2 separate regions of the Homo sapiens genome follow, and region 1 is linked to region 2. The links come from fine-mapping of genetic effects on gene expression. A gene starts in region 2. The other region holds a variant in brackets. All regions are shown on one strand. Distances are between the middles of the regions. Region 1 overlaps COL5A1 (collagen type V alpha 1 chain). Region 2 holds the start of RXRA (retinoid X receptor alpha).

Region 1 (8,318 bases), 520 kb before region 2:
GCACCGCCCCCAGCCTGCGTCTGGGTTACTGCCCCGTGTGGCTTCCCTCCCCATCTCTGCTCAGGCCACACCAGCCCCCTCCCACTTCCCCTTCCTCTCCCCACTCCCTCTGGCCTCTGCCCTGCTGTTCCCTCTCCTGCAAAGCCCTTCCTGCCCGCTGGGCTCCAGGCAGAGAGAACCTTCCCAGTGGCCCTGGTCACCCAGGAGAGCACTTCAATCCCCACCCCACACACACTACACACCCCATACACACAGGCACACACACCACACCCACACACACACTATACAGACACAGCACAAACCACACACACAGGCATGCACACTATACACATGCAGCACACACCACACACACAGGCACATTCCCCACAGGCACGCACACATATACCATACACACGCCAGCACACACACCACACAGGCACATGCACAAACACCACCTCCACACACAGGCATACACCACACACACACACACCACACACACCACACACACAGGCACACACACCACATACACAGGCACAGCTCCCCACAGGCACACACACACACCACACAGGCACACCACACACACAGGTACACACACAACACACATACACTTCACATAAACACAAATAGCACATGCAAAATACACCACATAGCACATGCACACACGTGCCATACACACATGCACATCACCCCCCCCACACACACACAACCACACACATGCACATTGTCTCCTCCCCTTTACATTTCCTCAGGTCTCATTCCTCTGGGCACACCTTACCCCTGCCTTGTGGGTCTTGGTCAGCCCGTGTCCCCTGGAGTGGCATCTCCTTGAGGGTGGGTTCTCCCCTGCTGCTCCCGCCTGGCACACAGCAGGTGGTCAATGAACTGCCACTGAAGGAATGGGGGAATGAATGGATGAATGAAAGAGTGGATGGATGGATGGATGGATGGATGGATGGATGGATGGATAAATGATGAATAGATGGATGGATGGATAGATGAATGGATGGATAGATGGATGGACAGATAAATGATGAATAGATGGATGAATGGATGGATGAATGAATGAATGGATGAACAGATGAATGAAAGGGTGAACGAATGTGTGGATGGATGGATGGATAAATGATGAATAGATTAATAGATGGATGAATGGATGAATGAATGGATGAATGAAAGGGTGAATGGATGAATGGATGGATGGATGGATGAATGGATGGATAAATGATGAATAGATGAATGGATAGATAGATGAATGGATGAAAGGGTGAATGGATGGATAGATGAATGGATGGATGAACAGATGAATGAATGGATGTGGTGGCAGAACTCCTTGGGGCCAGTGGGAGGAGGAAGGCAAGGAAGGCAGACTGGGGGCATGCACCCTCCCTCCAGGGTTCCTTCTCCCCAGGAAACTTCCCAGAGCTGTCACCTACAACCCCGAGAAATCGTGGGAGTCCCCTTGCATGACGGGTGCGAGGGGAGTCCCACAACTCTGGGCCACAACTGTGCCATGGCTCAGCCACCGGCCGAGTGGACCTCAAGCCTCCTGCTGCCTGGGATGGTCAAAGGGTCATTGTGAGTCTGAGCCACTGACTCCTCCAGACCAGGCTGGGGCCCCTCTGCAGGATGCCTCTCCGGAGGACAGATCAGCTGCCCACCTGTGCATTTCTGGCCGCTCCACCAGCAGGCACCACGCCGACTGTCCGCCCACCTGCCTTGCTCTCTCTCCTCTTCTGGATTCGATGGCAAGGACCTTCAGACCCATCAACCTTTGACGACTGTGAGCGTCCATTGCCGGAGTCGCTTTCCCAACTCAAATGCATTTATTAGGCGCCATCCTAATCTACTCCAGGATTTTAAGAAAGGGGTGGGCTGCTCAAATTCATGACGACTGAGTTTTAACTGGCGTTTGTCCCTCAAGGCGTCTCTCAATGTGGTCTTTAAACAGTTGATGTTGGGAAACGGTTGCCTCTTCCAACTCTGCGCATCCTTGATTCGTGGGCCGTTTCCTTTCATTCCTGGCTCTTTCCAGAGCTGGTCTGCCACGTGGTACCTTGCCACATGGAATTCAGGCATCCAGCCTGCCCACCATCATTTCATGTCAAGCCTCCTCCCCAAGGGTTGCAAGTTATGAGTTCATAATCTACCTCTGAGCTATCACAGTGATCAAACAATTGTACCCAATGTTCTGCCTGTGGATGACATGGGTCAACAGCCTCCCATCCTCTCACAATGGCCCCAGCTTCCCTGGGCAATGCTGCAGACCACCCTTCTGTTGTGAAAGTCGCCTCGTCCTTAAGCACCTACACAATTCCGGATCACCTAGGTTACTGGCTCTCCGGCTTGAACGTGCAGCAGAGTTGCTCAGAGACCTGCTTTCAGATGATTCAGCTCTCCCACAACATTTGGGCCAGCAGGTCTGGGATGGGGCTCAGGGACTGGCACTTCTAACAAGGTGGTGCCATTGCTGCCATTCCCCGGACCCTGCTGGAGACCCACTGGCCTAGGTTATTCGGCAGAGTAATCAACAGTCCCTGACATCAGTGGCTTTAATAAAACAAAAATGTGCTTCTCCTGCTCCTGCTACCAGTTCTCACAAGCTGGCAGGGGGCTCACTCAGGGAACCTGCTGGTGACGTAGCCCCTCCACGAAACATGGCTGGTGCTGTGCCCGAGGGAACCACACCTTCAGACCGGAAGAGGCGAATGCCACGTGGGCTCAAGGTCATCGGCTGCAACGAGCCCCGTGCCTTCCCCGACCTCTAGCCACAAGGAGCTAGGGAGTCTAATCCTGCTACACAGCTGGAAGGGCAGTGCTGGAGAGCTTCAAGAACATTCTCGCAGGGTGCTGACTGCCAGGAGTGAAGAGTGAGGACAGTACACGGTGGTGTGGACACCCAGCAGTGGCTGAAACTCACTTCTCGGGCTAGTGCCCGGTTACGTTCTAACATCCTCCCAAGGGCACAAAGCTGTCCATGCCAGCCTTGGCCACTCCTGAGGGACAAGCTCCACCTAAGGACAGCCGGGGCCATCCCTTCCTTTCTCTGGGTGGCCAGTGTGGTTATCTCCAGAGCTCCTAGCGTCCTGGGACTGTGTGCAGTCCTGTCTGGGAGGGGCCTGGCCACACTTAAGAAGAGAGTCACTCACATCTGTTTACGGTGGAAACACCCAACTCGATTTATTGAAAAACTATTACAGTTAATTATTCCTTTGTTACACAAGTTTAGAATATTTTAAGATATCCTTTCCTGGGCATTACAGTTAAAACTTATGACATGTCTAGCGGATTTTTTGAAACCGTACAATGTGTCATTTGACATTGTATTTCAAAAGGCCTGATGTCCTCGAAACTTTATCTTGGGTTTTTTGCTTACCATTTTTTTCTTTTTGCCAGCGTTTGTCCAATTATATATATTGAGAGGAAAAAATAAAATTACACCAAAAGAATTTCTGCAAATATAAGAAGTAATTTTATTGCAATATACTGTGGCTAGAGTGGTCTGGGGAGAACGGGACACATTTTGAAGTTCAGTACAAATTATAACAACTTTGAAGGGACCACAGAGGAAGAAAATGACAGGAGAAAAGGACAAATTGGATGGGATGAGAAATGAAAACAGAATCACATGACCTAGACGCAGTCCACGGGGGTCGCGGGACAGTCCTCGGCTATGGCTTTTCTTTTGAAGAGATGAAGGTGACAGTCATTGGCACATGCTGGCATCCTGGGCTCCAGAGACTCTCCAAGCCAGACTTTTCTTTGGCAAGAGCGAGACTTACTTTCCAGGGAAATTTGGAAAATCCACGCTGGCGGTGTTTTGTTCCTCCTGGGTGGCTTGTTTGTGGCTTCCTAAGCTGGAACTGCATTCTGGTGGTGGTGGGGGTCGGGGACAGCACCAGAGCCCCGCAGGCTCACCCCAAGGGCCCAGCCTGCATTTCCCATGGTAGAAGGAAAAGGCGCTGCACCCGGGCAACTTTTCACAGTGAAGAGATCGCCTTTCCTGGCTGCCCCTCGGGTCCTCCTGCCCACAGACGGCAGCCCCCCGACCTCGATGGCCAGGAAAGGGTTCCCCAAAGGGGACCTCACCCGCCCCGAGCTCTGGAGCCGCTGACGCTCGCATCCAGGACATTTGAGATGGGAATCCAAATAGGCTACTTGGAAAAGACGTGCTGCAGGCAGCCCTGGAGAGACTCATGGAGTTCATTGTACATTACTCCATCTACCGAGGCAGCGCATGGCATGACTGAACGGCTTGGAACAAACACAGAAATTAGCACCACAAACATTCAGGAACCAAATATAATCTGCTATGGTCACACCACAGACAATGCAGGAAGAGGCTTTTTATTGCTTGTGTGTGTTTTCAAATCAAGTAGGCACAACCCAGTCCTCATAACAGCCCTCGGGAGTGGACGCACCGGGGCGGGAGAGCGCAGGAGGGAGTGTGCTTGGCTATCCTGCCCAGTGGAAAGGAAAGTGACGTGCATTGATCTTAGAGTCCTTGGCAACAGACTGTGGAGGCAATAACAGGATAAAGAAAGCAGGGAGAACGAGGCATGGCCAGGGTCCCCAGTGCGCCTTCAAGGAGACCTTAAAACAGATAGATAGCACCACAAGAGAGCCACAAGAGAGAAGTGTAAAAAATAAGCACCAATTTTCATTGAGTTATCACCTACAAAAAATGTGGTTTCCCTGCCCTGGACATTCTCCCATCAGGCTCTGCGGGAAGAAAAGCGGAAAAAGGAAGCAAATAAAATTAATCCAAACCTGTGTTTTAGTCTTAAGTGCATGTAGAAA[A/G]AAGAAAATTATCAAATTTTTTCCCTATTAAAAAAAAAAAAAGTCTAGAGCGAATCAAAAACTGTCTGAAAAGGGGCACTGGTACCTGCTTTTCAATGGCAGCATAAATTCTTGCTGCCCCGGGGCAAACTTCCAATTTATTGCACGTTCTTGGCCAGGGCGGGGGTGGGGAGACTTCCTATTTCTAATCAGAACGGTACTGCAACCCAGAATCCATGCCTCGCCCATTCTGTCCGTGGGACTGAGACTGGGTTTCCGTGCATGATTGAAAGCCAGGCACACTTAACATTTATAACAATACAATACAAATATTTACTTAAAACTCACAAAAACATAAGCACCTTTAATCCATCGGGAAGGCACCTGCAGAATGACATTTGGCCTCTAAATGGATCGTGTTGGAGGTTGTTAAAAACGGAGGCTTTGGTGATGGTGGGATGACCTTTACGAGGCTTACCTTGGAACATTTTTTGAAGGTCAGGGGAAATACACATCTTCAAGTTGAATTTAGAAAAAAATATAGTGTCCAAATCTGGCAGTCCCTCCCCCAACCCCTGAGACCTATTCACGAACAGGATGGGTCGGGCGAGCTGGGGGGCTGGAGGCATGGCCCCGCTCCCGGGGCGCGTGGGTGTGGACAGAGCGTGGGGCGGGCCCAGGCGCTGGGGTGCAGCTAGGTCATGTGATTCAGCTCCAGGTGGGGGCGCGGCTCCTTCCCTCTGTTCTCTCCGGGCTGGGGTCCCACACCCCGTGGTGCCGAGGCGTAGATGAAGTCAGGTGGGAGGGGAGGGAGAAGCCTTCACTGTCCAGGGTCAGGACGTGCACGGGACACTCACGAACGAATGGCATGCTGAGGTCACGAGGTTGCTCTCGGGAGCCCGGGCTCGGCGGCTCCTAGCCCATGAAGCAAGCCGGCCCCACTTCAAATCCAAATTTCTGTGACGCTTCACCGAAGTCATTGAACATGATGTCCACGATGGGCACCTGCTCCACTTTGGGGGTGTCGATCTCCAGAACCGTCTTCTGGTAGCCTTTCTTGGTCTGGGGAAGAGGGAGACAGATGGCCGGTGGTTAAGAACAGTTGGGGGTCTTGGGGTTTACCAATCACCCCCCACAATCTGTCTGGCTCCAAAACCCAGGCTGGTGTCCTGTCTCCTACCCAGGGCTGCGCTTGCCCGGGCAAGTGTTGGAGGAAATATGGCTGATCAGAGCATGCATTTAACCCCGGTGGATGTCCCAAGAGTCCCCCTGCACAGGTCGGAGGTGGGGTGGTGTGGGCATCAGCGAGGCGACAGGACCCTCCCAAGGCTTCAGGGGTGGCTGAGGCACACACAGGATTGAAGCTGATCAGCCTTCCCACCGTGCCCAGTCCAGACTCCTTGTGATGCCCCAGGTATTCACTTCCAGGCAGCCTCCCCAGGACCCAGGGCCAGCTACAGAACAAGCAGGGCACACTGGAAAATCAAACGGGGGCTCCAGGTTCGAAAAGGAAGGAGTCCGAGGCGGCACCGGCAGAGCCTTGAGCCAAGTAAGACCCCCCTACGACCACCTGCCACACACTGCCTTAGGCACTCGGTGGGCTGGGTCTTCACCTCCACAAGTATGGGAAGGGGTGGGGACCTTCCACACCATCTGGTCTAGAGGAGTCTTAGGTAAACTGAGGCACAGAGGGCAGGGGTAGTGCAATGAACCTGGCCTGCAGGATGAGTCAGCACCCATCCCTTGCTCAAAACAGCACAACCCTGGGCGCTGGGATGTGGGATGGAAGCCTAGGAGAGGCCGCCTCCCTCCCAGAACACAGGCAGCGCAGGTGTGAGATTCTTTGGTCCCTCCCCAAAGCCACCCAAATATAACTCCCAGTGTTCTTTATAACTGAGGCTGAGCTGGCCCTGCTGTCCCGTCAACTTCCCCCAAGACAAGGGCCCTGGAGGCCGCACCTTTCCCGCAAACCAGGAGCCTGCAAACGCATCCTGGGCAGATGGCTTTTGCTACCTCAGACCCAGACTGGATTTACAGTCGCAGCTGGATCTGGGCCTGGGAAGGATCTCCTTCCACTGCCCCATCCCCAAAAGAAATGATCAGATAAACAAGTAGGGGCCAGCCAGGGTTCCCTCCCGGATGGGAGGCAGTGACCCCAGGATGCAGCCCTGCAGAGGGCCCAGCGCAGACTCCCAGGCCGGAGATTCGGATAGCAGACAGCAGCTCCAGCTCTCCCGGTATTCTGCTCCCTGACCTATGGGGAGGGCGTGGCCTTGAAGGGCCTTATTCTCCCTGACTATGATCTTAATGTTCCCGTTCCCAAAGATGGTATTAGGAGGTGGGGCCGTTCGATGGGAGTTGAGGAGGTCCTGAGGGTGGAACCCCATGAGTGGTATTAGTGCCCCTATAAAAGAGGCACCCGAGAGACTCCACCCTGTGAGGGTGTAGTGAGAAGCTGCTATCTGCAGCCCAGAGGGGAGCTCACCAGAGCCTGCCTTGCCAGCAACCTGCTCACAGACTTCCAGCCTCCAGAACTGTGGGCGACAAATTTCTGTTGCTTATGAGCCACGCAGCTGGCGAGATTTGTCGTGGCAGCGAATGGACCTAAGACAGACCCTGAGCTAGAGCCAGCCAGCTGCACCTCTCCCAGGCTTCTGACCCTCGGACATGGGGTGACGTAACGAACATCTGTGGTTTTAAGCTGCTAAATTTGGGGGGCTAGTTGATTACAAGCAATGGATAACCGATACGCTTTCTGTGACTCAGTTTCCTCAGCTGGAAAATGGGCATGCTCACATCACAGAGGCGCTGTGAGAAGGAATGAAGCTCACCTCCCTGCATGCGTTCCTGCTATTATCCATGAGAGTCCCAAACTTCACCTCCTAATGTCCACTTCTCCCCTGACCCTGCCCTTCTCACAACCCTGCCTTGATAGGAACACCTTTCTGTTACTGCAGCTGGCTCAGCCTGGCATGATTTTCAAGTTGGGATTGGAACTTCAGAGAGAACGCGAGTTCTCAGGGAGCTTGTTAACCCCCTACAGCTCTGACCCCTGCCCAGAGAGGCTGACTCCGTCTGGCTGGGGTGGGACTCGGAATCTGCATTTTAAAAAATGGGTGTCTCAGACAATTCTGATAGGCGTGGTCATGACTGGCCTTTGAGAAACGCTGTCCTAAAGGACCTCGCCATGGGGCACCCCCGGACTTGACAGCAAAACACACAGTTCCACAGAATGCCGAGTGTGGGGCAGACGGCACCCTGTGGCCAGCTCAGCCCTGCAGAACACAGCTGGGATGCTGCTGTCCCACAAGCCCGCCTGGGGGTGGCCACAGCTCTCCTGTGGAACGGAGGGCAGGGGCCAGTTGCAGCTCTGCGGTGGCTGGGAAGGATAGGTGGGCAGCGGGGCTGGACACAGGATATTCAATGAGAGGTGGCCATCCACACCCTCCAGGGGTGAACCCTGAGGGTACCAACCTCCTCACCCTCCCCACCGGCGAGGAGCCAGAGACCACCCTGCCTGCCTCTCCTCCGGCCTCTGCTCCCTGGCCCAGTCCCACCCAGGG
Region 2 (8,318 bases):
GGGTTGGGGAGGGCCTCTGCCCTGTGTCTGCTGGGACAGCTGTGCCCTCTTCTCCAGAGGACAGGCATTGCTCACCACTCGAGGTCCCAGCCCTGAAACATTTGACCCATGGCAAAACCAAACGTCACCCAAGAAAGGAAACTCCCCAGGCAGCCTCCACTGGCACTGGGTGGACCTGTAAAGCTTTCACCCCGCCCCCACACCACCTTCCATGCAGCTGAGGTCTGTCCCACCCTCTCCTGATGCCAGAGCCCCCTGCCACATGCACGACCAGGCCCCAGGGGCAGAGGGGCACACCCCTGAGTACCCCCTGTTCCCACAGTAATTCCACAGCAAATCCTGCAGGCACCCTTTCCCAGGGGAGGAAACAAAGACCACTGACAGCGACCTCCCACACAGCCACGGGGGAGATGGGGCAGGGGCCAAGAGAGGGCAGTCAGAGGGGCCTCCTGGTGGAGGTGAGCCCCCCACAGGCCCTGAAGGACAGGCACAGCTGGAAGAACCACCAGGTGCTGGCAGAGCCGGGAGCCAGTCACAGCAGCTGCCCGCGTGACCAGGGCTGCCGGCTCAACCTGCACCCCACACCCCAAGGGACTCAGAGCACCCGCCCCCCACCAGCCCTTCCTAGGGGCCCAGCTCGTCCCATCCACATCTGGGCAGAGGGTCACAGCTGCATGCTCGGGTCCAGGCCCAGCAGCCAGCCCTAGGCAAGGTTGGAGGCTAGCAAGCCAGGGCCACCATCGGACTGGGCCATTTTTCTCTCCCTGACACCTCCCCAGTCAACAAACAGGGCCCCTCCAGAGTTTACCAAAACAAACACCCTGCCGTCGGGCAGCGCCCGCGCTAAAAGACGCCCTCGTCAGGCCCGAGCGGGACTCCAAGCCCAGCCTCCTGAGAGTCACATGACCCTGTTATTTCGGGAGGCCCCGGAATGTGCTCTATTTTGGGTCCCAAGGGCTCTGATGTTACCAGAAGCCCCTCACACAGGCTGCAAGCTCACCCAGGCCCCCAAGTGCCCCAACTCCAAGAGTGGTCAGCGGGCCTACAGCTTTGCCACCGGGTCTCTCCACAGGCGCATGGGGTCTGGTGTGGTCTGAGACCTTTGGACTCTGTGGACTCCGCCTGAGTCCCACCATTCAGGATAAGGCCAGCGGGGGCCTTCTCCCCGGCAGGCGTGGGAGCGCGGCCAGCCCCGGGCAGCAGGGCCAGGAAGCTGGGGCTGCCTCTGGCGAGTCCCTCGGCCTTGCTTTCCTTCCAGATCTGGACGCTGCACTCATCCCTGCCCTCACTGAGCGGCTCGGTGGACACCGACTGGGATCCTCTCCCTGCCCACCAAGCCCAGCGGTAGTGAATGCTGGGAGGAGGAAGCCCTCTCTACCCCAGACCCCAAAAGCGGCTGGGCAGCTGTAAGGGGTGGCCGAGTCTCCCCAGCAGCTCCAGGTCTGACCGGTCGGCCAGCCGGGCCAAGACAAGCCAGGCCCTCCACCACCACTCACCCCGAGGAGGGATTAGGCTGTGTTGACAAAAGGGCTTAGAAAAGTAGCCGCTTAAATGGACCTTCGACTGCTCTGGACTTCAGAGCTGGTCACAAGCTTAGAAAAAAAATAAAATGTAATCAGAGCCCAGGGCTCTCTGCTCAGCCCTGGGGCGTGGGCTGCCTGGGAGGCCATGGGCCGGTCGGGAGAGCTGCTGCTCGAGAACAGAAGACTCCTAGCTTCCTTGTGGCAGGGGAGTGCCCAGGGAGATCCCTGGGGCAGTGGCTCGGAGGCACGACCTCTCCTCCTCACAGGGACTCCAGCAAGCCACCATGGCGACTGGGCACCCCTTGCTCCCTCGCCCTACATCCACCAACTCCGTGGACTATCCCTGTCCCACCCGGAGCATTAGAAACAGGGACCTGTTCGGTTCTCAGTACTCAGCTGAAGTGCAACCAGCCAGGCCCCTGCCACGTCCAGGGGCCAGACACTGAGCTGAGCATTCTTGTTCCAGAGGAATCGTCTGGGAGAGCCTAGCTCTGTGTGTGTGGATGTGTGTGTGCACATGTGTGAGTGCAAAGCTTTAACAGGGAAAGGCAGCCCCAGCCCACTCCACACTGCACTCGGTCACAGACAGCGCAGCATTCCCTCCTGCCTCACACTCAGCAGTACCACGAGCTGGGGGTGCTAATCCCAAATCCACCACCTTGTATCCTGGGGGCTCAGCCTCTCCCAGCCAGTTTTCTCATCTGCAAAATGGGCATGAGCGCCCACCCCTGGAGGCTGAGCCCTGGAGCTCATTCAAGGCCTCGAGCCCACCACTCCATCATGACAGAGGCAGGGAGTAAGCGTTAGGTCTGACAAACCTGGAACCCACCGCCTGCCCCGGTCACGGGGCAGCACACCTGCCTGTGAGTAGCAGAGGTACTCAGACTCTCACCCTCACATCCAGGAGGGGCTAGGTCCATGCTGGCTCCCCTTGATGCCCCATCTCACTAAACATCCCTGCAGCTACATTGGCTTCTGAGCACCTCCTGGGGTGGCCAAGCTGCACCCCAGGCTGCAGGGAGGGTGGGCAGGAGGGGCTACGGATGGCGGGGGCTTCATTCATAATCAGCTGTTTCGATTTCCATTCAGCACAAATCCTTCACCCGGCCTGACAGCCTGGCTGCCGTCCCACCACCAAATTAATATCCTTCCCGGAGCTAATTTATAAAGTCTCCCCCTTCTCACTAGCTTCCAAACCCTTGGGAGGGCAATGGGTGGGGGCCCCAGCCATGCCCTCTCCCCCTTCTCGGTAGGTCTGGGCCTGGAGTTGGCGGGCAGTCTGGGATAGGAAGCTACCGGGCGGGATGGCAGGAGGAGGAGGGAAACTGACCCTACGCGCCTCTGCGCTGTCCTGCTCACAAATGGAGAGCCAGCCTGGGAGAACACCCGGGGGTGCCAGAGTGAGGGGCCCCATTTCTGGAATGGGGCCTTCCCAGGTCTGACGTTCTGTTCATACAGCCCCGGGGGACCCTGCCCACCCGGGCGTGGGCTGCTTTGGGGATAACAGGGTCCCAGTCTGTTTCCTGGGCGGACACACACCCAAGGGCCAGCGGCCTGCTAGAAGCCGCAGCCCGACGGGCGGGCGGCGCAGAGGCCGCTCGGGGCCCAGCGCGCCGTCCCGGTCCCCAGGCCAGGGAGGCCGGAGCCGCGGAGCGCAGAAGTTGCTCCTCCCGCTCCGGCCGGGTTCCTGTGCGGCGCGGCTGCAGCTGGGCGCCGGGGCGCAGGCGGCCGCCGGTGAGCGGGAGACCCCTCCTCGTCCCGGGCGAACCTGCCACCCGCCCCCCGGCCCCGCCGCCCGCCCGCTGCCCAGCCCCGCCCCGGCCCCGCGAAAAGTTGCCCCGGGTCGACCCTCCCCGGGCCCGGCGCCCGAACTCACGCGAAGGTCGGCGAGGGGTCCGAGCGGGGCCCGGGCCGGCGACCCCCCGCGCGCGCCGCCAACGCGCCCCCGGCCCCCTCCCGCCCGCCGGCCCCCGGCCCCCGGCCCCGTCCCCGCCCGGCCCGGCGAGCACTCACCGAGCGGCAGGAAATGTTTGGTGTCCATGTCTGCGACTAACTCATGCCCGGCCGGCGGCGCAGGCAGCGGGCGGCGGGCGCGGCGGCCCCCGGCGCGGCCGGCCCGGGCCCGGGCGGCGGGGAGCCGGCGGCTGCGGTGGCGGCGGCGGCGCGCGGAGGCCGCGGCGCGGCGAGTTGTTGCAAAAGTCGCCCAACAATGTAAACTACTTGTGTCTGCGCGCCGCCGCCGCGCGCGCCCGGCCCGCGCCCCCGCCGCCGCGCGCCCGCGCCCCGCTCCGACCGCGGCGCTGCGGCGCCGGCGGGGGGGTGGCGGGGGGCCCGCGACGGGCGCTGACTCGGCGCAGCGCCGCCGCCACCGCTCGGCCCGCGCCCCGCCCGCCCAGCCCCGCCCGGAGCGCGCCCCCCTCCGCCGCCGCCGCCCCGCGATCGCCGCCCGCCCGGCCGCCGAGTTGAGAGCGCCGTGCAAACTTGCGAGTTCGCCTCCGCCAGGGGTTCCCGGGAGCCGCGAGGAGGCGGCGTGGGAGGGGGCGGGGCGCAGAGGGAGCGGGGCGGGGGCGGGGGCGGGAGCAGAACTCCCTCCCCGGGCCCGCCACACACTCGCGCACACACACACTTGCGCGCAAGGGCCCGGAGGAGGCGGAGAGCCGGGCCGGGAGCCCAGCGGCCGGGCCATTGTCTGCGCGGCCACACAAAGCGGCCGGGCGGTGGCCGCGAGGGGACCCCGGCCCGGGCCAGGCAAGCGCAGAGCCGGGCGGGATGGCCGCGGCACCCATACCTCGCACCCCGCCGCGGCGGACACGTGGGGAAACTGAGGCCCGGGAGTGGCGATGTGCCCCAACGGCAGAGGACAAGCTCCTCGTCCGGGGAAGGTTTCGTCTTCCGGACGCTACCCCCGGTCCACCCCACACTTTCACGCCCTACCCCCACGGAGAGACCCACGAGCCCACCGGGAACGAGGAGGGGTGCGCGCTTCGCCTCCTCATCGACCCGCACTCCTGGGACCCCTCTTCAAAGGCACCAGGCTGGGCAGGCGCTGCCCGGAGTTGGACACAGACTTTGTGGCCGGTGGCTATTTTTATACCCTGGGTAGTTCTCTGCCTGACTTTTAAATTCACGATTTGTTTGAAAACGAAAGGAAGCACTCCTGCCCCGGGACAGCTCGGGCCGCCTCCGCCGCGCGCCGCCCGCCGCCCGCCGTCTCGGGCGGCTGGAATTCGGATTTGGGTGTGAGCTACCTGCGCGCCGCCAAGCCCAGCCTTCCTGAGCAGGCGCCGAGGCGCCCCGCCGCGCCCTCCCTCCGCACCCCCACCGCGAGCTTGCTGACCACCTAGACCTAAGGGCCCGGGCTGCGAGGCACAGGGACTGACCATTCACGCAGGCTGCGCGTGGTGGCCCGGGTCAGGGGACGCTAATGGGGAGGGAGGTGAGGAGGTGATGACCGCGTGTGGACAGCCATGACACGGCCCAAAGATAACAGCCCGAGACCAGAGAGGTGTCCTGCTGCCTGGGTGCCCCTCAAGTCGGGCCACCCGGAGCTGGGTTCCACGAGGGCTCCGGTGGCCTGTTCCGGTGGGAGGTCTTGGTTCCACTTGGGACAGAAGTGCCCTGGTTGGGCAGCCCACCCCCAGCACAGCCAGAGCCCAAGGCAGCCCTCTCCCCCTCCCCCTCTTCACTGACCCCTGGGCCCCTACCAAAGGCCACCCCGTCCCCCTATTCACACACCCTGTCCAACAGGCAGCCTGCCCCACTCCCTCCGGGATGAGGGCCACTGTTGACACCTGGTCCTCACCCACTGTGGTTACAGCCACAACAGACCCACTTCCCCACTGCACATGGCATGCCGGCCCAACCCACTGCCCTTCTAAAACTGAGTTCCTCCTGCCAGGGAGGGGGGCGGCAAACAAAGGATAGGACTGAGAAAGAGCCCCCGTAAGCACCAACATACACTGCAAAAGTGCCATGTGCCCGCCGCGTTCCAGGCCTGTCTCTGTGACTGCTTGGGCCCCTCCTGACTGTACTCAGGTTGGGGGGTTGGGGGGGAGTCCCAGATAGACAAGGCCTGGGCCAGATTGCAGGTCCACCTCCTACCAACCGTGTGGCCTAGCTGGGTCACTTCCCTCCTTGTATCTCAGTTTTCTCATCTGTAAAGTGGGAACAACCACTCCCTCCTCACTGAGTCACTGAGATGACTAAGTGAGATAATATGGAGAGTCTGCGCTCGGGAGGACGAGCTCGGTGTGACAGTTATTGTGATGATGATGATGATGAAATGACGCTGAATTAGGCAGGCCGTTCGCCTATGCTCAGTGCAGGGAGAGCAAGGCTCTATCCAGCCAAAGGGCTCAGGCAGCTTTTGGGATCACTGGTTCTTGAGTCAGGTTTTGGAGCAGGGAGGTTCCATCAGGCAGTGGCCGCCCAGGCAGCAGGGCCGGCTGAGCAGCGGCCTGCAGAGAGAAGGAGCAGCAGGCCGCGGACGGCAGGTCAGGACACGCCAGGCAATGGTGGGAAGGCTGGGCTGAAGTGTCTGAGGTCACCTCCCAATAGTGGGCGGTGTGGCATGCTGGACTCTCCACCCCACCCCCATCTCACTCCTTGTCCCTGAAAACTCAAGACTCAGGAGCTGTTGGTGCCTGGAGTCGGGGAGGCACATGCAGACAGATTTCCATGTGGGTTCCTCCTGGGAAGGCTGAAGGTTCCAGAAGGGCCCTCTGTTCCTAAGAAACACCGGAAGGCGTCATCCCCTGCTCTAGAGACCACGTGGAGAGCGCACGGAGTCCGGAGTCCTGCAGATCTGGGCTCACATCCAGCCTCTGTGCCCACAGACGGTGAATGGCTCTCAGCCCCGCCCTTCTCTTCCATGGGGCAGGGGCCTGGGTGCTCGGCCGCCGAAAACACACCAGGTCCTTGATGGAAAATGACGATGCCGCTTGTTATTTCTGTGGCCACTACTTTTTATCCTCCCCCTCAGTTTGGAGCTTTTTGGTGCAAATGATTCTACACGAAACCTCCCGGGATAGTGGCTGCCCCATATGAAATGGCCAGGTCTGAGCCAGCCATGGAAAAAAACACCCCAGCCTTCCCACCATGTGCTGCTACAGCCAAAACTATTTTTATAGTAGTATCCATTTATTCACAACCTGCGATCTAAGAAGGTTTTGTTTTTTTGTTTTTTTGTTTGGGTCTTTTTTTTTTTAATTTCCCTGAGGGACGCTTTTTAAGGTACTTTGGCCTATTTCATATGCCTGTCTCGGCTCAGTCTTGTAAACAGTCCCGGGAATTGCTTGTTGAATAATATTTTTAAAGGCTGGTCTCTGTGCTGGCTGAGCATGAGGAAGCTGGCGTCTGGGTGGACTGCTCCCAGAAGTTCCCAGGACACCAACGGGGCTCTAAGCTGCTTCCAGAGGTTCCCTGTGGTCCTGAGCTGGTCACTAGCAGGACCTCACAGGGGTTTGGGGAGCTCAGCCTCCAACAAGGGAGGCCAAGGGCTTGGGTACTGCTGGGCAAGGTGGCCCGATCTGTCCCCAAGCACCTCAGCCTAAGGGGACTCTCTCTCACATCCGTTGTGGCTCCTTTGGGGACAACACCTTTTGTCTGTGGTGACCGATGATGACTCGAGCTGGGAAGTAGAGCCGAAAGCTCAGAGAGGCAAGGGGCCACCCGGCAGGTCCACATGGAACTGGGACTAGGCCCAGGGGTCCCAGCCCGAACCCCCTTTCTCAGTCATAGCTTGTCTCTCCATCAGTCTAGAGGGAAACACTCAAGCCACTTGTCCACACCTGGGCTCCAGTCTGTTCTGCTGAGTGGAGAGGAAGAGAAAGGATAGGAGGGAGGGGAGAGGAGAGGACAGGAGGGGAGGAGGAGGAAGAGAAGAGGACCCCTCTGCTCCTGGGTCTGGCCCTCTGGCAAAATGTTTGCAGGCCTGCAGGGCAGTCACCACTGACAGCGTCTGCCCTGGTAGCAGTCAGCTGGCTGGCCCTGCACACCCCAAACCCAAAGCAGTGCAGGGGAAGAGAAAGGTGAGGTCCTCCGAAGGCCAGCCGCTGCCTCCGTCATCAGCTGGGGTCTTACTTCCAGAACTCTGGGGAGCTGAATGGTGGCGTGAGCCAAAGAGTTCAGGTGAGTGAGGCTTAAGGGGACAGGAGCTGGTTTGTAATGAAGAGCCAGGATTTCAGTGCAGCTCCAGGCAAGAGACAGTGGGTTCCCTCCAGGGGCCACCAAAGAGCCCCACCGAATCCCAGCGCCAGCCGCAAGGGGTCACAGATGCTCAAAGAAGGGCAGGAACAGTTCTGAGAGTCCGGAGAGGAGGAACCTGAGCTTTCCAAGCTGCCTCCGAGGTGCCAGTCTGCTGCACACTGCCAGGTACCATCCCCTCTAACCCCACCCCGGCTGACCAAGACTCTGGTTTCCCCGTTTCCCAGATGGAAACACTGAGGCGAAGAGCAGCAGTGACTGACTCCAAACCGTGTGGTGACTCTGGCACCACAGTCCCCAGACCCAGGGCTGAGGTCAGTGGTCAGAACCCCCAGGAAAGACCCCAGACAACCACCGACCTCCGCCCCCAGCCTCCAATGAGCCACACCACCTCCCCGCTTCTCATGGCACAGGTCGGCCAGCCAAAGCAGCCGGTGCCAGGTGAGACCAAAGTCCAGAGAGAAGGGACATAGGTAACAGACTTGGAAAACAAGGTGCTGGGGAAGGTACCAGGAGGAAGAGGCCATAGCCTGGCTCTGCCACCAACTCTTACATGGCCCTTGGACAAGGGTACTCTCTGGACATCAGTCT

What was found. PIP is the estimated chance that this variant, and not a neighbour inherited with it, causes the effect.
Region 1: its variant is fine-mapped to the expression of RXRA in cerebellum (GTEx, PIP 0.99).

What each region holds. Positions count from the first base shown.
Region 1 is chr9:134,839,656-134,847,973 of GRCh38, reverse strand. It overlaps COL5A1 (collagen type V alpha 1 chain), which reads right to left. Exons shown (of 66, transcript NM_000093.5): 66 at 3,131-5,817. The coding sequence ends at 5,671. All of the region lies in intron 1 of LOC101448202 (a long non-coding RNA gene), which reads left to right. Among named protein-coding and RNA genes, the nearest start is that of MIR3689C, 5.6 kb to the left of the region's middle. RefSeq lists enhancers at 2,189-2,689, 5,001-5,835. The variant A/G (reference allele first, on the strand shown) is at 4,777.
Region 2 is chr9:134,321,878-134,330,195 of GRCh38, reverse strand. It overlaps RXRA (retinoid X receptor alpha), which reads right to left and starts at 3,741. Exons shown (of 10, transcript NM_002957.6): 1 at 3,537-3,741. The coding sequence starts at 3,564. RefSeq lists enhancers at 596-1,525, 1,526-2,455 and silencers at 3,066-3,205, 3,944-3,993, 4,064-4,243.